Homo sapiens: one gene and its partners. The protein of the gene in region 4 purifies or fractionates together with the protein of the main gene of each other region. This does not show direct contact. Each region holds a gene or a part of one and is shown on either strand. Other genes may lie near its edges.

Evidence for each region.
Region 1: the proteins of PIK3IP1 (region 4) and SLC38A2 purify together in Homo sapiens (affinity purification with mass spectrometry; one large-scale study listed by BioGRID and IntAct). This does not show direct contact.
Region 2: the proteins of PIK3IP1 (region 4) and RBM24 purify together in Homo sapiens (affinity purification with mass spectrometry; one large-scale study listed by BioGRID and IntAct). This does not show direct contact.
Region 3: the proteins of PIK3IP1 (region 4) and GOLGB1 purify together in Homo sapiens (affinity purification with mass spectrometry; one large-scale study listed by BioGRID and IntAct). This does not show direct contact.
Region 5: the proteins of PIK3IP1 (region 4) and SEL1L3 purify together in Homo sapiens (co-immunoprecipitation; one large-scale study listed by IntAct). This does not show direct contact.
Region 6: the proteins of PIK3IP1 (region 4) and SLC44A1 purify together in Homo sapiens (affinity purification with mass spectrometry; one large-scale study listed by BioGRID and IntAct). This does not show direct contact.

What each region holds. Positions count from the first base shown.
Region 1 is NC_000012.12:46,360,231-46,362,773, reverse strand, and holds part of SLC38A2 (sodium-coupled neutral amino acid symporter 2), read left to right. Parts: intron 1-135; coding exon 136-280; intron 281-392; coding exon 393-490; intron 491-1,564; coding exon 1,565-1,663; 3' UTR 1,664-2,543. UniProt on the Homo sapiens protein: Symporter that cotransports neutral amino acids and sodium ions from the extracellular to the intracellular side of the cell membrane.
Region 2 is NC_000006.12:17,280,130-17,284,160, reverse strand, and holds the start of RBM24 (RNA-binding protein 24), read right to left. Parts: upstream 2,801-4,031; 5' UTR 2,580-2,800; coding exon 2,412-2,579; intron 2,098-2,411; exon of another isoform or gene 1,942-2,097; intron 1,461-1,941; exon of another isoform or gene 1,390-1,460; coding exon of another isoform or gene 1,357-1,389; coding exon 1,233-1,356; intron 1-1,232. UniProt on the Homo sapiens protein: Multifunctional RNA-binding protein involved in the regulation of pre-mRNA splicing, mRNA stability and mRNA translation important for cell fate decision and differentiation. Plays a major role in pre-mRNA alternative splicing regulation.
Region 3 is NC_000003.12:121,739,742-121,743,241, forward strand, and holds part of GOLGB1 (golgin subfamily B member 1), read right to left. Parts: intron 1-3,500. UniProt on the Homo sapiens protein: May participate in forming intercisternal cross-bridges of the Golgi complex.
Region 4 is NC_000022.11:31,289,689-31,293,660, forward strand, and holds the start of PIK3IP1 (phosphoinositide-3-kinase-interacting protein 1 isoform 1 precursor), read right to left. Parts: upstream 2,801-3,972; 5' UTR 2,657-2,800; coding exon 2,587-2,656; intron 1,609-2,586; coding exon 1,492-1,608; intron 1,397-1,491; coding exon 1,277-1,396; intron 12-1,276; coding exon 1-11. UniProt on the Homo sapiens protein: Negative regulator of hepatic phosphatidylinositol 3-kinase (PI3K) activity.
Region 5 is NC_000004.12:25,852,989-25,856,488, forward strand, and holds part of SEL1L3 (protein sel-1 homolog 3), read right to left. Parts: intron 1-3,500.
Region 6 is NC_000009.12:105,394,651-105,397,846, reverse strand, and holds the end of SLC44A1 (choline transporter-like protein 1), read right to left. Parts: 3' UTR 501-3,196; downstream 1-500.

The DNA of each region.
Region 1 (2,543 bases), on a different chromosome or scaffold from region 4:
AGTTTTATTTAGAAATAGTTACTATTTTGGATAGATTCCTTGTTACTTGGGCATTCTTTTCATTCATTGAAGCTGGATTTTTAAATTTTATATTGCTGCTATTTTTAAAATACATTTTATTTATTTTTTTTGCAGATCCGGAGTTCTGTAACTCACTTGTTGTGTGCATCAAAAGATTTCAGTTGGTGGCGTCATAGTCTCATTACAGTGTCTATCTTGGCATTTACCAATTTACTTGTCATCTTTGTCCCAACTATTAGGGATATCTTTGGTTTTATTGGTAAGTTTTAGAAAGTATCCAAGTGGATTCAAACATCAGGGATTTTAAGATTTAAAGAATGAATGACGAGTGGTTCATTGAATCCTCAAGAAACATAAATGTTGTTTTACAGGTGCATCTGCAGCTTCTATGTTGATTTTTATTCTTCCTTCTGCCTTCTATATCAAGTTGGTGAAGAAAGAACCTATGAAATCTGTACAAAAGATTGGGGTGAGTGAAAGATTATAACCATAGAAACAGTAATAATATCATAAATTTCCCCAACTGATTTTAATTTTATTCTCATAGCTGTTATTTGTTATGGTTTCACTTTTAAGTTTCCAGCAAACATTTCTGTAATGGTATACTTCACAGATGGAAGATTGCAGAGGGAAGGGGAAAGATAGTTTGCCATCTAATGAACACTTAAATTAATTGCAATAAAGTTATTAGATACTTTGGAGATAGGAATAGGGATGAAGACTAGATGAGATACTCAGCTTTCAACATTTGTTCAACCAGTTTTCACTGGACTGCCTACTGTGTGACAGGCACTTAAATGGGCATTGAATATATAAAAGAGAAGGAAGGGCTGTTTAGTTGAATGAGACTGACCATCTTCAGAGCGAAGCTCTCAGGGAGGCCGTCTCTTCATGGTGTTTACTATTATGTATCTACTCTAAAGTGTAGTACCAGTTGGTGACAGAGAATGATGTGCTAACCACAAATGATGTGGTTCCTAGAACCAGAATCCTGGTGGTGATATTTAGGAAAAAGACTGCTTTTTAGTCATTATTTTCTCCTTCATTCTGCTCTGATTAAAGTACTAGAATTGTTTATAAACCAACAACTGTCATCTTGTTTTACTCTAAATTACATAGTGGCAGTATTGAAGGGTAGGATTTAGGAATTAGTATTTCCTGGAAAGACCTCTGGCTTTGACTTTTGCTGCATTTTAGGATGATTTGGGTTTGATTTTGTGACTTGACTTTCATTCTAAAAAATTGCAAAAAAAAATCCAGTCCAGTTCTATATGAAGCAGTTTGTTTAGCAAGAAAATTCCCTGTCACTTGAGACAAAGGAATGAAAAAGTGAAAAAGTTCAGAAGGCCTCAAAGGTAGTTATTGTGTACTGCAGATAACATACTGATCACTTAGGAGTTTATATTTAGCAAGTTAAATATTCTTTCTATAGATTATATAGTGGATAGATTTTAGTAATTAAAGCACATTTCAAAAAATAGAAGAAATGTTTAGCATATATGTTTTATTACTTGCTGATCAATTTTCTCTATGCTCTTTGCAGGCTTTGTTCTTCCTGTTAAGTGGTGTACTGGTGATGACCGGAAGCATGGCCTTGATTGTTTTGGATTGGGTACACAATGCACCTGGAGGTGGCCATTAATTGGCACCACTCAAACTCAAACTCAGTCCATCTGATGCCAGTGTTGAGTAAACTCAACTACTATGAAATTTCACCTAATGTTTTCAGTTTCACTTCCTTTTGAAGTGCAGATTCCTCGCTGGTTCTTCTGAGTGCAGAATAAGTGAACTTTTTTGTTTTGTTTTGTTTTTTTAAGAAACTTATCTGTATGTTAGAAATGGATATGAACAACAAAACCACGAGTCTCGGGTTAAGGGAAGTGACAATTTTATTCCATTCCAGAGAATGGACAAACTCTTAACTTTTATCAAGCCACATGCTTGGCTGTGTCATTGTTTAACTTGGATATTTTATGATTTTACTTGAATGTGCCTAATGGAACCATTTGATGTGAGAAACAATTCTTTTTAATTTACAGCAAAATATTGAATAACCATTGACAAAAACACTATTATTTTTTGTACCAAAAATACTTAAAGACCTCAGAAGCACTCTTTTACTTTTAAGAAATTGCTTTTTTGAACTTTATTCAGAAGCAGTTATCAATAAATTCCATAAAATAATGTCATTGGTATTTAAAAATGAATATTAATATAATGAAATGGTTTGCCTTTTTGTAGGCATAATAAGCCAAATACTTTTTTACCCAAAATAATTTTTAGAGAAAATGATGTAATGAAAAATTGTACCATGAATTAGGAGCATAGTTTTTTCCATTTAAACGTCACCATTACTTAAAAGATGATTGATTATTGCTATACCAAATCAGATGAACTCTGTTCATCACTTTTCTTCTCTGTCCCCAAACAATTTGGTTCATTCAGACTGAAATGTTTGTGTCTTCAACTTATTAGAATGGAAGATAATGCAGATATTTCTGTGGGAAATAAAATAACTAATT
Region 2 (4,031 bases), on a different chromosome or scaffold from region 4:
TTTTTTTAACGCCCATGAATATTTGCACAAACACTCATTTTCTTGACAACCTAGTTTCCTTTTAAACCCGTTTGGATGGAAGTGTCAACCTCTTCCCAAAATTTCAGATGGAAAGGCTTAGGAGTGAAGAGTATATGATTTAATCAAACTTTACAAGTAAAGTTGCCTGACCAAAGAAAATATTATATTTGCTTAAAAATCAACTCTCAACTATTTGTGCTAATGCAAAGGGCAGTGTTGTAAATAATCCAAGAGGTATTGTTTTCCCATAGACAAAAAACTGCTCCCTTTTGGCAACTAATAGCTACATGACTTAAGTAAAATATTTCTCATCTCTAAGCATCAGTTTCTTTGTCTGTAGCATAGGGTTCTTGAGTAGGTGCAATTTCTGTTTTCTTTGATTGCTAATACTCTGTGATTTTATGTTGAAGGTTTACCATTTTGGGCCAGGCGCGGTGGCTCACGCCTGTAATCCCAGCACTTTAGGAGGCCAAGGCGGGTGGATCACCTGAGGTCAGGAGTTCAAGACCAGCCTGACCAACACAGTGAAACCCCGTCTCTACTAAAAATACAAAATTAGCTGGGTGTGGTGACACATTCCTGTAATCCCAGCTACTTGGGAGGCTGAGGCAGGACAATCACTTGAACCCAGGAGGCGGAGGTTGCAGTGAGCCTAGATCGCGTCATTGCACTCCAGCCTGGGCAACAAGAACGAAACTCCATCTCAAAAAAAAACAAAACCTTTACCATTTGGACATCGCCCCTACCCCTTAATGCTTCCCTTGGGTCTGTGTTCAAGTCAGACTGCCTGCTCTGAGCACAGTGCAACTGGTGCTAAAAGGAGAGACACCACTAAGTAGGGAAGTATATTAGCTGAAGTCGACAAATTTGGCCTATATAATCCACATGTGAATTATCTACAGGTGGCTAAAAATTGGAAAATTGAGAGCAGACTACAAATGTATGCCATATAGGAAACAGGTGAGACATGACTAACTCTTCTTCCTGCACGACCCCCAAGATCCATTTTTGCACACAGGTACATTTCAAGCCTTGAGAGGAGTATTTACAACTCTCATTTATGTTTAATGCCTTGGTAGAATAACAAGCCATGGTTCAAGTTTACTAAACACATCTACAGAAAGAGACAATGTCTTCTAAATTAGAGAATCATCCCACCCATAAATGGGGGGTTCTTGGAGAGGGGGGTAGGGGAGACAGACATTTCTCACCTGGTTGCATGATCCTTGGTTTTGCTCCTAAGTATGCCAGGTTCACGTTGGCCTTTCTGCCATCAATGATGGGATTGGGATCCTTGCAGGCCCTTTCGGCAGCAGCCCGGTCAGCCATGGTGACCTTAGCAACAGACACACACAGACATACATACATAACCTCTAAATTAACCCATGAAGGAAATCAAGAATCACAATGGAGAAGTCATTCATGATAAAACTGAGATCAAACTTTTTTTCTATTCTTTGCTTCTTTTGGCTGGACCCTCCTCCTTGATCTCCCATTTTTAACAGGCGGGCGGGGGCGTGGGGGGGGGGGGCGGGTAGACGAAGGAAAAAAGAAAGAAACCCTCTAACCCTGCCTCCCCCCACCCCACCGCCGAAATCTTAAGGGTGTTAGTAGGGCCTAGCCGAGATTTGGAAGCCTAAATTCTTGGAACTCTAGATCCTCCTTCCCCCGAATCCCCCGCCCCCCAGGTCCCTACTCAGCCTCAGAGGCACCGTTTGCTTTAAAGAAAGTCCAGCCTTACATCCGCCCAACGCTCCCAACCTCGAAAACACTCCCCAACGACAATAGCTATTGTCCTACTCTGGGGCTCCCTGCTCTTCGGCAGCTGAATTTGCACGCTTAAATCTCTAGGAAGGAAGCTTAATATGCTCTGTTTCAGTTCGGCAAAGAGCCCTAGGATCATGATTTAAAAGAACCTACCTTTGCAGTTAAAAGGCGGGGGGATGACACAAGGGCAACAGCCCCAGACCTCGTGGGGTGTCCCCTCCCTGCCCCAGCCAAAACACCAGAACACACGCATTTTTACAAAGCAACAGCGCGCTTAACAACCGGCATCCAGCCCGGGAATGCAATTGTTCAGGGTTGCGGCCCCTCCCTCGCAACCCTCCGCACCCCAAATCCCGCCGTCATTACAGGTCTCTCCTTTCACCCCTGCTCTGCCCTGCCCGGCCCCCGACCTCGCACAGCGCTGGGTCTTCTCCGAACCCCGCGAGGCTGGCGCCGACCCTCTCCCCTAGCAAAGTTTCAGTTCACCCCGGAGCGAAGGGGCAGCGCCGCTCTACCCGCGGGGCTCCTCACGGGTCACGCCGAGCCCCTCACTCCAAGCTCCCGATCCCCGGGGTCAGCCGCCACTCCGTCCCTCCCCGTCACCCCCAGTCCGTGCAACTTACAAATCCATAGCCCCGGGACTTGCCCGTCTGCCGGTCGGTGATGACCACCGCCTCCTCGATCTCGCCGAAGACCTCGAAGTACTTGCGCAGGCTGGCGTCGGTGGTGTGGTAGGGCAGCCCCCCGACGAAGATCTTGGTGTACGTCGTGTCCTTCTGGGTCGTGTGCATCTTCGCACCCGCCCCGCGGCTCGGGCTCCGGCTGCGGCTGCGGCTCGGGCAGCGGCTGCGCCTCCTCCTCCGGCTCCGCGTCTCCCGCACCCTTTCGCGGCCGCCGGGGGCCAAGGGCGAGCCCGGGGGCGAGGGCGGCGGCGCGGCGGGGGCGAGCGGCCGGGGGCGGCCGAGAGCGCCGGGCGCGCGGCTTCCGAAGTCGCCAGCGGCCCTGGAGACTTGACTTCGCTCTCTCCTCCCGCCCCCCCTGCCGGTCACCGTACAAATTCTCCGGATCGTCTGGATTAGAATCGGGTTCTATAGAATGTGCAAGCGGTTTCCACTCACCCGGCGGGGAGGCCAAAAATGAAAAGAGAGGGTAGTTCTCAAGCGAAGAAGCGGGTGCTTTAGAGGTAGATTTTTCTTCCTTAGGAATCAGGTGCCTTGGGTGGGGTGTGGGGAGGGTCCGCGGGAAGAGCGTCCGAGCGCCGAAGCGGGCGGGGGGCGCGGCGGCGGGGCCAGGGGCGAGGAACTCCGCGCAGCTTCGGCTCTGGTCTGTCCCTCCCGCCGTGGGATCTGGAAGACGAGTGCCGAGGACAGCTCTCCACCTCTCTGCTCCCTTCCCCCGCGGGCCGGGGGTCGACGCCCGGCTGGGGAGGGGGGCGGGCCGGACGCCTGCGATTGGCCGCGGCAGCACCTGGGGCGCCGGGCGCCGCCGCCCCCCAGCTGTTGGGAACAGCTGCTTCTCTCCCCGCGCGGCGCGGCGCTGGGGCTCGGGGCTCCCGCTCTGTAGCCGGCGATGGGGTAGGGCTGGAGACGCCTGTAGGCGGCCTGGCTCTCGGCGTCGCCTGCTCTAACCAGTCAAAGTCTTAGGGACCCGGCGCAGCACCAGCCGGGACCCAGGGTGCGGGGACTGTGCCCAAGGAGGAAGCTGCGTTGCTTTCCAGAGGGGACGACGCGAGCTTTTTGGGTTAGGCCTCGGTGACAGGGCCGGCGACCTGGACTGGCGAACTGGGGTCCCCAGAGGCCTGGGGCGATTCGCTGAGAGGCCAATCCCCTCCCGGGCGCGGGGGGTCAAGGAGCTCGGCCGAACGAAACCCAAGCTGGACACCCTGGGGTCTGAAGAGTGAGAAGGAGGGCCCCAACTTTCTTTGGCCCCAAAAAGCCAGTGCGGGGAAGTATCAGAGAGGTAGAGCCAGAAGGAAAAGAAAGATCTAGCGCTTGGGTGTAGTTGGGAAAACCATTAGCTTTAATTGCTACCGCCCAGCCAAACCAAGTAACCGGAGATACCTATGTCCATCAGGCACCGCCTTCTATTTCAGAGGACCATAAGTTAGTATTTTAGCCCCCACAGTCACCAAATTTGTCTTTCCTCCCTAACTTAGTTATTCAGGAAGATTGGTACAGATGTCTTAGCATAAGTCGTTCTTTTTTTTTTTTTTTCCCTAAACAAAGAATTAATCTATTTCTTTC
Region 3 (3,500 bases), on a different chromosome or scaffold from region 4:
TTCACAAGAGAACCTGCTGTATATAAACATTCATAGCAGCTTTATTTCTATTAATAGACGGTTAAGCAAACTGATATATACAGGCAAATGGTTAAACAAACTGGTACATACATCCCATCACATACTTCTCAGAAATAAAAAGCAACGAACTACTGATGGACCCAACAACTTAGATGGATCTCCAGAAAATTACATTGAATGAAAAAAAGCCAGTCCCAAAAGGTTACATATTATACAATTCCATACTTCTATAACATTTTTGAAATGACAAAATTTTAGAAATGGAGGAAAGATGAGTGATTACCAGTGGTTAGAGAGGGGTTGGGGTGGGAAGTGACTGTGGTCATAACAAGGCAACACAAGGGATCCTTGTGGTGTTGCAGCTGTTCAATATCTTGACTGTGGCAGTGGATACAGGAACCTACACAGGTGATATAACACTGCAAAACTTAATGATACACATACATACATATACAAATGAATATACAAGTAAAACTGGGGAATATATCTATCTCAATATCCTAATTGTGATATTATGTATTAGTTTTGCAAAATGTTACCACTGGAAGAAACAACAAAGTGTATAAAAGAGCTCTGATTATTTCCTACAACTGCATGTGACTCTACAATTGTCTTCATATTTAAAAAACAAATGAAAAAGAAATGAACTAAATGCAACATGATATCCTGAATTGAATCCTGGAACAGAAAATGGACATTAATGGAGAAACTGGTGAAATGTGAACAACGTCTGGAGTTCAGTTAATATTAATGTACCAATGTTGGTTTCTTAATTTTGTACACTGCTAATGTCACATGTTAATCTTAGGGAATACTAAGCAAAGGATACACCAGACTTCTGCACTATCTTTGCAAATTTTCTGTAGTAAACTTTCTGTAGTGATCTGAAATAATTCCTAATAATTTGTTTATTTTTAAAAAATGTAAGAAATTAAGAGTTACATAGGATTTGCGAGAAACAGATAAATATTGAAGATAAGTAATGTGAATAACAGGATTCCCTGAAGAAGAAAAGCAAAGCAAAGAAACAGCACAAATATGAAAAACCATAATCCAAGAATATTTATTTGAAAATTTTTTTTAAAAAGATTTGAAACTACATCTTGAAAGAGCCCACAATGTACCTCAGAATGTCAACTCAGAATGACCAACAAAACACTCTAGTAAAATTACTGGACTTAAAAAAATCCTTTAGGCTTTAGGCTAAAAGATCATATGACCAGTAAGATAAAGAAAAAAAAGCACTAGATTTTTCAACAGCAATGTTTTTGCCAGAAAAAAAAAATGAGTTACAAATTTAAGATATTCAAGAAAAGAAAAAGTGAGCCAAGGATTCTATTTCTGGCAAACACAAACTTTAGATATAAAAAACACAGACAAAATGTTATGAACGAGCAAGAAAATTCATGAAATATGAATATTCCCTTAAGCCTTTCCTAAAGAATTTACTAGAGGCAAAACTTGAGGCAATCCAAATGACTAAAGAAACATCATTATAAGAACTAGTGGTGAGCATTAAATATACGGTTACTAACAGAATTAAGACTAAGTAAAGACTGGAGGAGAGACAGCATAGTATGTAATGATTATATGCTCTGACAATATATAGGACAACCATGAAAAAAAATCGGGAAGAATGTGAATAGCATATGCAAAAAATAAAAAATATTTTTAAACAGTTTTCAATAATTAAAAGTGGTTGTTGTCTACGGCCATACCATCCTGAACACACCCGATCTCGTCTAAAGTGGTTGTGGTGGTGATATTCGTATCATCACTCCTAGATTACTATATGTGAAATGTAGAATTAAAGCAAATGATAATTATGGATACACTAATTCTGTATTTTCAGTTATGAAAAGAAGATACAGATGTAATACAGAAGAAATTAAGAACCCCGAAATACAAACTAATCTTTGAATCTGAATAGGAACACTCAGTGTGAAATGACAATTCAGTATTTTATATTTGTTCACATATTTTCCTAGCTCTGTCCACCAAAAAGGCTTAAAAGTAATGACAAACTGAGAAGCAATGAATATCTCTAGTGCCTAGATTGGGGTCTTGAAATACTCTTTCCCATTTTTAAAAAAGTTTTTAAAAGAAGGTTTTCTTAGAGAAATGGCTAATTCCATTTCTAAAGTGGAAATGTACAAAATGATCCTGAAACATCTTGTCATACAAGATAGGAAGCTTTCAAAGGACACAGGTTCCCATTGGCTAAAAGGATAATTTGAATATGTATGAATAAGAATTACAGCACACTGGGCCATACTGTCCAAGGTAATTTATAGATTCAATGCCATCCCCATCAAGCTACCAATGACTTTCTTCACAAAATTGGAAAAAACTACTTTAAAGTTCATATGGAACCAAAAAAGAGCCTGCATAGCCAAGACAATCTTAAGCAAAAAGAACAAAGCTGGAGGCATCACGCTACCTGACTTCAAACTATACTACAAGGCGACAGTAAGCAAAACAGCATGGTACTGGTACCAAAACACATACATAGACCAATGGAACAGAACAGAGCCCTCAGAAATAACACCACACATCTACAACCATCTAATCTTTGACAAACCTGACAAAAACAAGAAATGGGGAAAGGATTCCCTATTTAATAAATGGTGCTGGGAAAACTGGCTAGCCATACGTAGAAAGGTGAAACTGGATCCCTTCCTTGCACCTTATACAAAAATTAATTCAAGATGGATTAAAGACTTAAATGTTAGACCTAAAACCATAAAAAACCCTAGAAGAAAACCTAGGCAATACCATTCAGGACATAGGCATGGGCAAAGACTTCATGACTAAAACACCAAAAGCAATGGCAAAAAAAGCCAAAATAGACAAATGGGATCTAATTAAACTAAAGAGCTTCTGCACAGCAAAAGAAACTACCATCAGAGTGAACAGGCAACCTACAGAATGGGATAAAATTTTTGCAAACTACCCATCTGACAAAGGGCTAACATCCAGAACCTACAAAGAACTTAAACAAATTTACAAGAAAAAAAATAACACCATCAAAAAGTGGGCAAAGGATATGAACAGACACTTCTCAAAAGAAGACATTTATGAAGCCAACAGACACATGGAAAAATGCTCACCATCACTGGTCATCAGAGAAATGCAAATCCAAACTACAATGAGATACCATCTCACACCAGTTAGAATGGCAATCATTAAAAAGTCAGGAAACAACAGGTGCTGGAGAGGTTGTGGAAAAATAGGAATGCTTTTACACTATTGGTGGTAGTGTAAATTAGTTCAACCATTGTGGAAGACAGTGTGGCAATTCCTCAAGGATCAGAACTAGAAATACCATTTGACCCAGTGATCCCATTACTGGGTATATACCCAAAGGATTATAAATCATGCTACTATAAAGACATATACACATGTATGTTTACTGCAGCACTATTCACAATAGCAAAGACTTGGAACCAATCCAAATGTCCATCAATGACAGACTGGAT
Region 4 (3,972 bases):
GGAGGTGGTCTCTGGAGATGAGGTGGGAAACAGCTCTCATCAGGGACTGCCCTGAGTGAATTCCACAGCTGAACCTGGCCTGAGTGTTAGGGTAGATGAAGGTGGGTCACCTAAGAATTTCCCCCCACACACAACCCAAAGTCAAATTCTGCCCCAGAGGTAAGATCAGGCCTGAGAGGGCTGAACCATCTCAGGGACAAGGCAAATGAGAGAGGAAGGCCGTAGGGAAGGGCTTCTCTCCTACCTCCCACGTCTTTATCTGTCCAAATCCTTGCTATTTCCCAAGGCCCCTCTCGGTTGCGTTCTTCTGCAGGGGATTCCCCCCACTTCTACTTCAGGAAACAACCCATGCTTCCTTTGAGCAGCTCACATCTAAGCGTACGCTCTGTGCCAGTCCTTAGGTAAAATGTTTTACTTTGTGCCGGGAGCGGTGGCTCACGCCTGTAATCCCAGCACTTTGGGAGGCCAGACGGTCGGATCACCTGAGGTCAGGAGTTAGAGAGCAGCCCGGCCAACATGGTGAAACCCCGTCTCTACTAAAAATACAAAAATTAGCTGGGCGTGGTGGTGCACGCCTGTTATCCCAGCTACTCAAGCGGCTGAGGCAGGAGAATCACTGTAACGCGGAAGGCGGAAGTTGCAGTGAGCCGAAATTGCGCCACTGCACTCCAGCCTGGGTGACAGAACGAGACTCCGTCTCAAAAAATAAAAAATAAAAAATAAATGCTTTATTTTGATTATCCCATTTAAACCTAGAAAACTCTCTTGCTGCTTTGGGAGCAAAAAGCCTGCGCTCTGGAATCTAAGAAACGTGAATTCAAATCTGTCCCCTGCCATTGCCTTTGGTAAATCGCTTAACTTCTCTGAAGCTCAGATGCCTCAAACGACTTCTTCCCGCGGTGTGTGTCAGGGGAGGTTGGGGAGCTGGGGTTGTGAGCAGTGTGGGTCTAGCACACTGCAGACGCTCCGCAAACGGTCAATAAACGCTGAGGGGCCAAAAGCCACTCCTCAGGACGCGCGGCGGAGAGACCTAGCCTCACCCCAGCCTCGCCCCGCGCAGTTGTTTACAAGCGCTCGCGGCGGATGAGCTCATACGAGTGGCGGCGGCGGCCAATAGGCTTTGAGCCCCGCGGCCTGGAGACAGCCCTGGCCAATCGGACGGCGCGGAGGCGGAGCGGGGCCGGCCGGCATCGCGCGGCCGCACGTGCGCCACGAGTGTCTCAGCCGCTTCCTGTCAGCGCCAGGAGCGGGGATTCCCGGGGTCCCGGGCAGGTACCTGGACAGCGCAGGTCCTCGCAAGGCCGTTTCTCAGGGACGCCGGCCTCGCCACTGACGTAGCACCAGGGCCCGCGCGGGTCCTCGTCCGGGTTTCGGCAGTAACTGTGATTGCCGGCCCCTAAGAGAGGAGAGAAGGAAATGTGTGCCGGGGCTGGCACCGGGAACGCGGCCGCCGCCCGCCAGCCCCGGGGCCGTCCCCCGGAGGACACTTACCCGACACGGGGGCCGAGGCCAGCCCGCTCTGCGCGTCCAGCCAGTTGAGGCAGCGGAGGCCCGGCGCGGGGGAGGTCTGGTCCTCCCGGTACAGGTGGCCGTTGTCCCAGAAACAGCCTGTGAGGAAAAGAAGCCCCCGGACACAGAATAGCGGGCAGCGAACGGAAGACGCCCAGCGTGGCGGACAGGGGAGCCGGGACCACCCGGGCTGAACCTCAGCCTGGTTAGGGGACCCCGGGCCCTGCTGGGCCTCCCTCTCCTCTCGTGGCAACACCCCCACGCCCCACGCACCCCCCCCCCCCAACTCCACGCACACCTCAGGGTGTGAAGCCCCCAGCCTGTGCCTGTCCCCCAGTCAACGCTCAGAGACTGTTAGGTTTTATTTATTTTTGAAACCTGGAAAGCGCTGCAGAAGTGCAAAGCGTTGTTACTCTTGAACTTGTGACCACTTTGGAGGAGGAGATGGAGAGGAGGAGGCCTGGCTTAGGGTCCCTTTGAGGAGCTGGGAGTTTTGGGACGGGGGGCGCCCAGACGTGACATTTGTCCCTGTGTTGTAATGGCCACGTTACATAAACTCCGGTGTTTCCTCCTTCACGGATACGGCCACCTTCTGCCCGTTTAAAAGGCAAATACTCCCTCCCAGGAGAATTCTCCAGGAGCCTTGACTCCGTCAGGCAAAAGATTCAAGACAGCCTCAAACGGAGGAAACCGGCCTCATCGCTGACTGGATGAGACTCCAAGCTCCCACTCCCCTCTGCAGGAGAACCACAGAAGGAGGCTGGGGAAGGAGGACCACACCATGCAAAGGGCTTAGAAAGAACAGGACTTGGGGAGTAGGGGAGATGAACCCCCAAGCTCCATCCACTCATGAGCAAGGAAAGGCAGAGAGAAAGTGGCTTCTTGCCTTTGTTCTTAATGGCAAAGATGGAGCTGCAAGCCCCTGACAAGGAAAGGAGGGGTGGAAAAGCTTTCACGGGACAACAGAAACCGGCTAAACGCTTCGTTTCCTGTCATCCTGGCCCTGTTTGGGAAATAGGGGGCTTTACCCCTTCTGTTTCATGAAGTTGCTGCGGAAAGGAAAGATTGTAATCTCACCTCCAGATCCATAGGCTTCTGCTAGGAGCATGTTGCTGACGAGGAATGCTTGTACCCAGGCCAACAGCATCCTTGCCTCCTTCGTCTTGCAGGTGATTGAACGACCAGTGTTTAACCGAGGCCCCCTTGGCGGCGGCTCTGCCTCCCAGTCCCAGCCTTGCAGTCAGACCTGCCCTTGTTATGCTGTTCTGGTAAACAGCCTCTCTTTAGAACTGGGAGCTTCCCAGCTAGCTTGCTGCAGCGCGAGCTGTTTTTCAGCTGAAAGGCGCCCCCTGGGTCCTAAGCCTCCTAGGTCATGCAAAATCTAACTGAGCCAAGAAAGGAACTCAGCCAAGAGATATGCAGGTTGTGCTTAGCAGCCGATCAGTTTGAGACCTGCGAGGCCGCATCCCCAGGGTTTTTCATCTCTTCTGTTTCCATTTGTGTGAGTACAGAAAAAATAATTCTATCAAGGGGCATCATGGGATGTGGGAAATTATAAGCACTAAAACACAGAACAACTTAGGGAGCTATGCACCCAGGAGGAATTCATGACCACATAGGGGGGAAAAAATAAGAGTTTCTGGTGGGGAGTGGAGTAATAGTTTTTTTTTTTTTCTTTTCTTTTCTTTTTGAGACAGAGTTTCACACTGTCGCCCGGGCTGGAGTGCAATGGCACAATCTCGGCTCACTGCAACCACCTGCCGGGTTCTCGCAATTCTGCCTCAGTCTCCGGAGTAGCTGGATTTTTTTTTTCCCTCACTCTATAGGAAATCCATTTGCTGTAATTTATATCCATCATTAAATCTCACCATATCCATTTGACTTAGGCCTTTTGGAGTTAGGCAGAAGGGCCCTTCTTCCTGTTTGGCTGACAGCTCCCAGGCAGCCTCAGTAAACTGAGAGAGAGAGCAGAGTGATTCGTCAAGACTACCTTGTGACAGGGGCACACCACCACAACCCAGCTAATTTTTTGTATTTTTAATAGAGACGGGGGTTTCACTGTGTTGGCCAGACTGGTCTTGAACTCCTGACCTCGTAATCCACCTGCCTCGGCCTCCCAAAGTGTTGGAATTACAGGTGTGAGCCACCGCGTTCGGCCGAGTAACACTTTATACCCATCCTTGAAAAAGAAAAAGGGCCTTTATGAACACTGACACTTAAAAAAAAAAAAAAAAAAAAAAAAAAAAAAAAACAGTGTAACTTGGCCAGGGTCAAATCTGTCACATTGCTTTTTCTTACATTTGAGGTTTTTTGGGGTGTTGTATATAGTAGGACTATAGAAGGAGTATCTTTAGTTGAAAACACATGTTATGCAAACATGGAAAAATTTGCTCAGCTACATTGTAATAGTCTACCCTTTCTGCCAGCCCTAAATTGTATAGAGGAATTTAAGTAAAATGTTTG
Region 5 (3,500 bases), on a different chromosome or scaffold from region 4:
CAACAGTCCACTTTTCTTCATTAATTAATGCAGCACCCTGAGTGTGGTTTCAGTTTTGTTTGATGGTCCATGCTTATAACATTGTGGATAATGGACATACATACACGCCAGGTGTTGTGGCTCATGCTGGTAATCCCAGTGCTTTGGGAGGCCAAGGCAGGAGGATCACTTGAGCCTCAAAATTCAAGGTTACAGTGAGCTATGATAGTGCCAATGCACTCCAGACTGAGCAATAGAGTAAGGCCCTGTCCCCTCCAAAATAAAAATAAAAATAAGAAGGCATATACACATTTCACCGTGTACTCTCCACAGAGCCGTCCCTTCAAATTCTGTTTCAAAAAAACTCTCCATATACTTATATGAAGATTATTTCATTTTCACCTGTTTCAAAGTCTCAGGTGCAGTAAAAGTTACCCCAAGGTATATAGGTGTTAGACATATGTTATCCAACATGGTAGTCACAAGTCATATTAAGCACTTGTAATGTGGCTGGTCTGATTTGAGATGTCCTGTAAGTGTAAAATATTCATTGAATTTCAAACCCTTTGTATAAAAAAAAGGGCTGCAAAATATCTCATTAATAAATTTTATATTAATTGTATGTTGACATGACAATATTTGGATACACTGAGTTAAATAAAATACATTAATATTCATTATGCCTGCTCTTCTTACCTTTTTTTTTTTTTTTTTTTTTTTTTGAGATGGAGTCTCGCTCTGTCGCCCAGGCTGGAGTGCAATAGGGCAATCTCGGCTCATTGCAACCTCCGCCTCCCGGGTTCTAGCGATTCTCCTGCCTCAGCCTCCTGAGCAGCTGAGATCACAGGCATGTGCCAACATGCCCAGCTAATTTTTGTATTTTCAGTAGAGACAGGGTTTTGCCATGTTGGCCAGGCTGGTCTCGAACTCCTGACCTCAGGTGATCCACCTGCCTCGGCCTCCCAAAGTGCTAGGATTACAGGTGTGAGCCACTGCCCCCGGCCTCTCTTTACTTTTTTAACATAGCTACTAGAGAATTTAAAATGATATATGTGGCTTGAAATTTGTGGTTCACATTGTATTTCAACTGGATAGTGCTATTCTAAATTTGAGGTCAGCTGACTTTCTTGGGAAAAGAAAAATAGCCAGATGGTAAATATTTTAGGTTTTGCAGGGACACTTTGAAACAGCCATAGGGACAACACATAACTGAATGGGTGTGGCCGTGGTCCCATACAACTTTGGTTACAAAAACAGGCAGCTGACTGGACAGGCCCACAGGCCTATAGTTTGCGAACTGCTTTTCTAAATTATCAAGCTTTTTTTTTGAGACTGAGTCTCCCTCTATCGCCCAGGCTCAAGTGCAGTGGCACAATCTCAGCTCACTGCAACCTCTGCCTCCCAGGTTCAAGTGATTCTCGTGCCTCAGCCTCCTGAGTACCTGGGACTACAGGCACGTGCCACCACACCCGGGTAATTTTTATATTTTTAGTAGAGACCGAGTTTCACCATGTTGGCCAGGCTGCTCTCGAACTTCTGACCTCAGGTGATCCACCCACCTCGGCCTTCCAAAGTGCTGGGATTACAGCATGAGCCTACAGCGCCTGGCCAATTATCAAGCTATTATCCCAGATAGAGTTTTGAAGAACAAAAGGTGACAGAAGATATGCTTTGTTAGGAGTTCTCATATAGGAGAAACGGGGTGAATAGCTCAACTGGGCATCATTTCATATGTGTGTAGTTGATGGGGCTTGATTCTGTATTTTTCTAAAAGGTTCCCTGGTGGAGAGTGTTGACATTTTGCTATTGTTTCTTTCAGAAAAGATCTAAGTCAGAGGATAACATGAAGTTAAGCTAGGCAAAGAGATCAAATTTTAAGGACTGAGATGGATTGTTTGACAAGTAGGAGAAGCTTGAATGACAGCTGGAGTACAAGAGAAGAGAAACTTCGGGGTGGGGCAATGTTTCCTTAAGTTAATGAGGGTGTGTTGGCCCCAAAGAGGGCCTCAAAATCACCCTGCATGGCCTGTGCAGAACATGGTCTAAACCCTTCAAGAAGGTGCTTTGAGGCACCCATGCAATGAAGGAAGCTGGCATCCGGTGGCTTGTAGCAGACCTGTGGGCAGCTGATTCACCACGAGTCGTGGCTACCTTTCCTATGCACAAAACCAACACTGATTAGCAACACATCACACTCTAAATATTGATTAAGCTGAAGCTGACTTCCTGGCTCAAGTCATGTGTGTGGTTATAAGCTGTTTCCTGCCAGGAAAATAAGGCAATTAACTTGAAGAGTTCCAGCTACAGGCATGACACGTGTCCAGCCTTCATAGGTATTTTCACATGCCAGGTTGCATTAACACAAGCTAAAAATTTATCTGCATGTTCCTTTGTTTAGAAATTATGAGTTCAGAGTCCATGTCATTGTTATGTTTCCAGCTTCTAAGATAGAGTCTGACACACAGTAAGAATTTAGTAAGTGTTTCTTGCTGAAATAAAGCACTGGGGCTGGGCACGGTGGCTCATGCCTGTAATCCCAGCACTTTGGGAGGCCGAGGCGGGTGGATCACCTGAGGTCAGGAGTTTGAGACCAGCCTGGTCAACAAGGTGAAACCTTGTCTCTGCTAAAAATACAAAAAAAAAGTTAGCCAGGTGTGGTGGCGGGCACCGGTAATCCCAGCTACCTGGGAGGCTAAAGCAGGAGAATCACTTGAAACTGGGAGGTGGAGGTTGCAGTGAGCCGAGATTGTGCCACTGCACTCCAGCCTGGACAACAGAGCGAGATTCCGTCTCAGGAAAAAAAAAAAGCACTGGGCATGGGCATTTCTGCCAGGTGCCTCAGTGGCCCTGAGGGCACTTGCATATAAACCAAATGACTTGATCAGTTTTGAGTCCCCACTGCCTTCTTCTTATACTCGTAAGTTCTCTTGTAAGGGGCCCCCATCATTTCTCTATTTTTCTCCCAGCCTCGTTAATTCCTTCCAAAGAGCCCTTACCCTTTGGCACCTCATTGGTCCCTGGGGATCAGAGCTGAGCTGGGGAACTGTGAGGTCAGAGAAGGTGGCACCTTGGCACCCACCTTAACCATTTGGGGCAAACTTCTCCCAGCTATTTGGTCCCTCTAGACCTTTTCAGACAACTGCCCTACATTCTAGACCGTTTCCATTTCTCCACACCAAAAATACAAATTAAATTTTTAAGATTTCTCATCCCTCGACCCTCTGCTGAATTCCTGTTCATCTGGCAAGTTCATCCATGTTACTGTGATAATGAAAAAATACTGAGGTAAGGTCACGTATCTGTATTTCTACACCAGCTTTGTGGAGATAATGCCTTAAAAGCACAGTCTAAATGCACCGCAACTCTAAGCAAGATATTTGGGGTGAAGAGGGGCATCTGTGCCCCTCAAATTATGTGGTTTAGGCAGCTACAATAGATGTTCCACCTTGAAAGCAACATACTGATCCATTTTGCACGCAACAGAGCTGGGCCCTGAAAAATGCTTGAGCCCTCAAATATGT
Region 6 (3,196 bases), on a different chromosome or scaffold from region 4:
TCTCCCGAGTAGCTGGGACTACAGGCGCCCGCCACCACGCCCGGCTTATTTTTTTGTATTTTTTTTAGTAGAGACGGGGTTTCACCGTGTTAGCCAGGATGGTCTCGATCTCCTCATCTTGTGATCTGTCCGCCTCGGCCTCCCAAAGTGCTGGGATTACAGGCGTGAGCCACCACGCCCGGCCCAGTGGAGGCTTTTCTACTCTGCCTGATGATTGAGTTCAGTTGCAATCTTAGCATTCACGCGGCAACTCAGACTCCAGCTATGAAGCCTGGCCTGGCAGTGGATGAACTTTGTACTTCAGAAATTGGTTTAGGTACATTTATAGTTGCTATTCCGAAGCCCCCAGAACATGCTGCGAGAGACAGAAAGGAACAGCTGGGAAATTCTGGGGCACCCTTGCAGCATACTGACCTAATTTGAAACGAAGATGTTGCCCATGATTTTATCAGTCACCACCCTGGGCATGGGGAAGTGTTACAACACAGTAGACAATAACATTCTTTCCTATAAAATTTTATTTATTACATAAAAAATTCTATACATTTGTTAGACTAAAATACAGTTTTCATTATAATTCTGGCAACTGAGTCAGTACACAGAGAAAACTTAGCATTAGATCAGCACTTTTCTTTCTAGTTCGTATTTCTGCACAAGAAAAACATTTCAAAGCTCCGTTTCATATAGGCTGATTGTTCTCTGAAGCCAGATGGAATTCCATCCAATTCAGAGCTCTTGGAAGTTAATTTCCCAGCAAGATTTGATAACTCCAACTCCAGAAAGTTAATTGCTTAATATACATATTTTTAAAGTCCTCTGAGAGCATAATGCTCCATCTGCAAAGTCTGCACTGTGTCAATAATGACCGTCACAAATACTAGGGCTACAACTGTGTCTGTGGGGCATGTTCAAGCACCTACATGTTTGTTCCCCCACATGAATACAGTGTAGTGACACTGTAATAAGAAAAAAATCCAAAATAATGGTAAGGTAAATGATTCCAAACTATGAATTCATGGAAGGCTTAACTGTGATCCTCCAGTTTATAATGGACAAAGACAAGACAAGATACAAAAATTCATTTTGGCACTATGAAATAGGATGCAAATGGCAAAAAAAAAAAAAGACAAAAAGGCATCAGATTGAGAAATATGTGGCACCAAAACATACTTCTCATGCCACATTACACAGCTGCGAGAAATCAAGACACACCGATGTGTGTTTTCTGCTCATATCACCCCATATGCTGGGCTGGGCTTGACACTGGATGTGAAGACTCAGTGCCTGAGAGATCAATAGCAGGTCCCTACTGTATTGACTGATCTTTAAATTTGGCCGCCTTATTATTCTAGGAGCTCTATTCTAAACTCAAGGAGTTCAGAAAGGCTGTGCCAGCCAGTAAGTAAAGTTGGACCTTTGGTCTTCAGAAGATAGGGTTTTGTCTTTGGTTGTTTTTTGAAGCCCCTGTCATTTTGCTTGATGCCCTTCACACTTTTCTCCCTGCCTTTTTGTTAAAGTTTTTTTCTCCTGTAATAAAATCAGTTAATAACCACTGAACTAACTTCTTTAGATTAAAGCTCTATTAGAAGTGCATTCAGTGGTCCAGAATATTCTGAGAAAGTATAACAACTTCTTTCATTATGGAGCTCTCAGTATCTTTTTATAGGGAAGAAGTCAGAAAACTCCAACAACACAACACAATCTAGTAGCATTAAGGCAACACAGCAGAAGAAAAGTTAACTGTCCCCATGTGATCATCTCTGAAAATCAAAATAGGCAAAAACAATAGGGGCCAAAAACCAAGTTCTGAGCACAGACTACAGGAACCTAGAGGATGGGGGAAAATCTACTTAATAGTCCCTGTTTCAAATCACCAGCCCCCAAAGCTATCCTATTATTGTCACATTCCTGTGGGGTATCTAATACAATTTACAAAAAAAAAAAAAAAGTCACCACCGGATTATCAACATGGTAAATGAAGAAGGAGCTCACATTTTCTAGTGGCAACTAGAATGATCCATGGAACCCATTCTATCTGCCCAATTATTCCCAAGTCTTCTTTTCAATGTCTACTTTTTTTTTACTCATATGATTTAACACATGCTCCTGAAACGACAGTTCAAATTATAATCCTAGCTGACAGGATGGGTGGATCAGATTCATACACGAAGGTCAGAATATTCCCTTTAAGTCTTACACTTCTGTGACAAAAGGGCATATCACATTTAGATACTTAGACTGGACTTACGCCCTTTTCTATCCAACATGGGAATTTCCACCAGTGGTCTCTGCATTTACTACTGTGGAAGGTTCATTAAAACTCTTCTAGGCCGGGCGCGGTGGCTCATGCCTGTAATCCCAGCACTTTGGGAGGCTGAGGCGGGTGGATCACCTGAGGTCAGGAGTTCGAGATTGGCCTGGCCAACGTGGTGAAACCCCGTCTCTACTAAAAATACAAAAATTAGCTGGGTGTGGTGGCACATGCCTGTGGTCCCAGCTACTCAGGAGGCTGATGCAGGAGAATCACTTGAACCTGGGAGGTGGAGGTTGCAGTGAGCTAAGATTGAGCCACTGCACTCTAAGCTGGCGATAGAGCGAGACTCCGTCTCAAAAAAACACCAAAAACAAACAAAAAAAACCCCCAAACTTTTCTAGGAGTGTGGGGTGGGGTAGGGGGCTGACTTTTCTCCTTTCTTCACCAGCCAGTTATATTTCCACTTTCTTCAGCCTGAAAAAGTAGGAAATGGTTTGATGCCTGACTATAAGTCATGAGCCACTGGGATCAAATTTCACAAGAACTTCAAACCCCTTGATGAGTTTCTGCCTGCTTTTTCAAGGGCCCAGGGAGCCTTCCATGTAGATGCAGCACCCTTACCTAATAGTAAGGTGCAGATGTGAAGAAATCCACATGCTTCCCTAAAGAAGATAGAGTAGGTAAGGGACTGGGGGTGGAGTTCTATTGGCAGAGGAATCTGAAGCTGCTCTAGTGGGTGACTGGAAAACACTAAAACAGAACACACCTCCGTGATTTATGCAGGAAGAAAAAACATCTTTTGCATTTCTACCTTCAGCATCTGCTCCTCCAACTTTCTACCAAATTTATTTTTTGCCAACTATGGACTACCCTTGAGTTTGCTAATTTATCATCATCTTCAACTGTTGTTGGAACTGGACATGTTGACAAATATATTTTAAG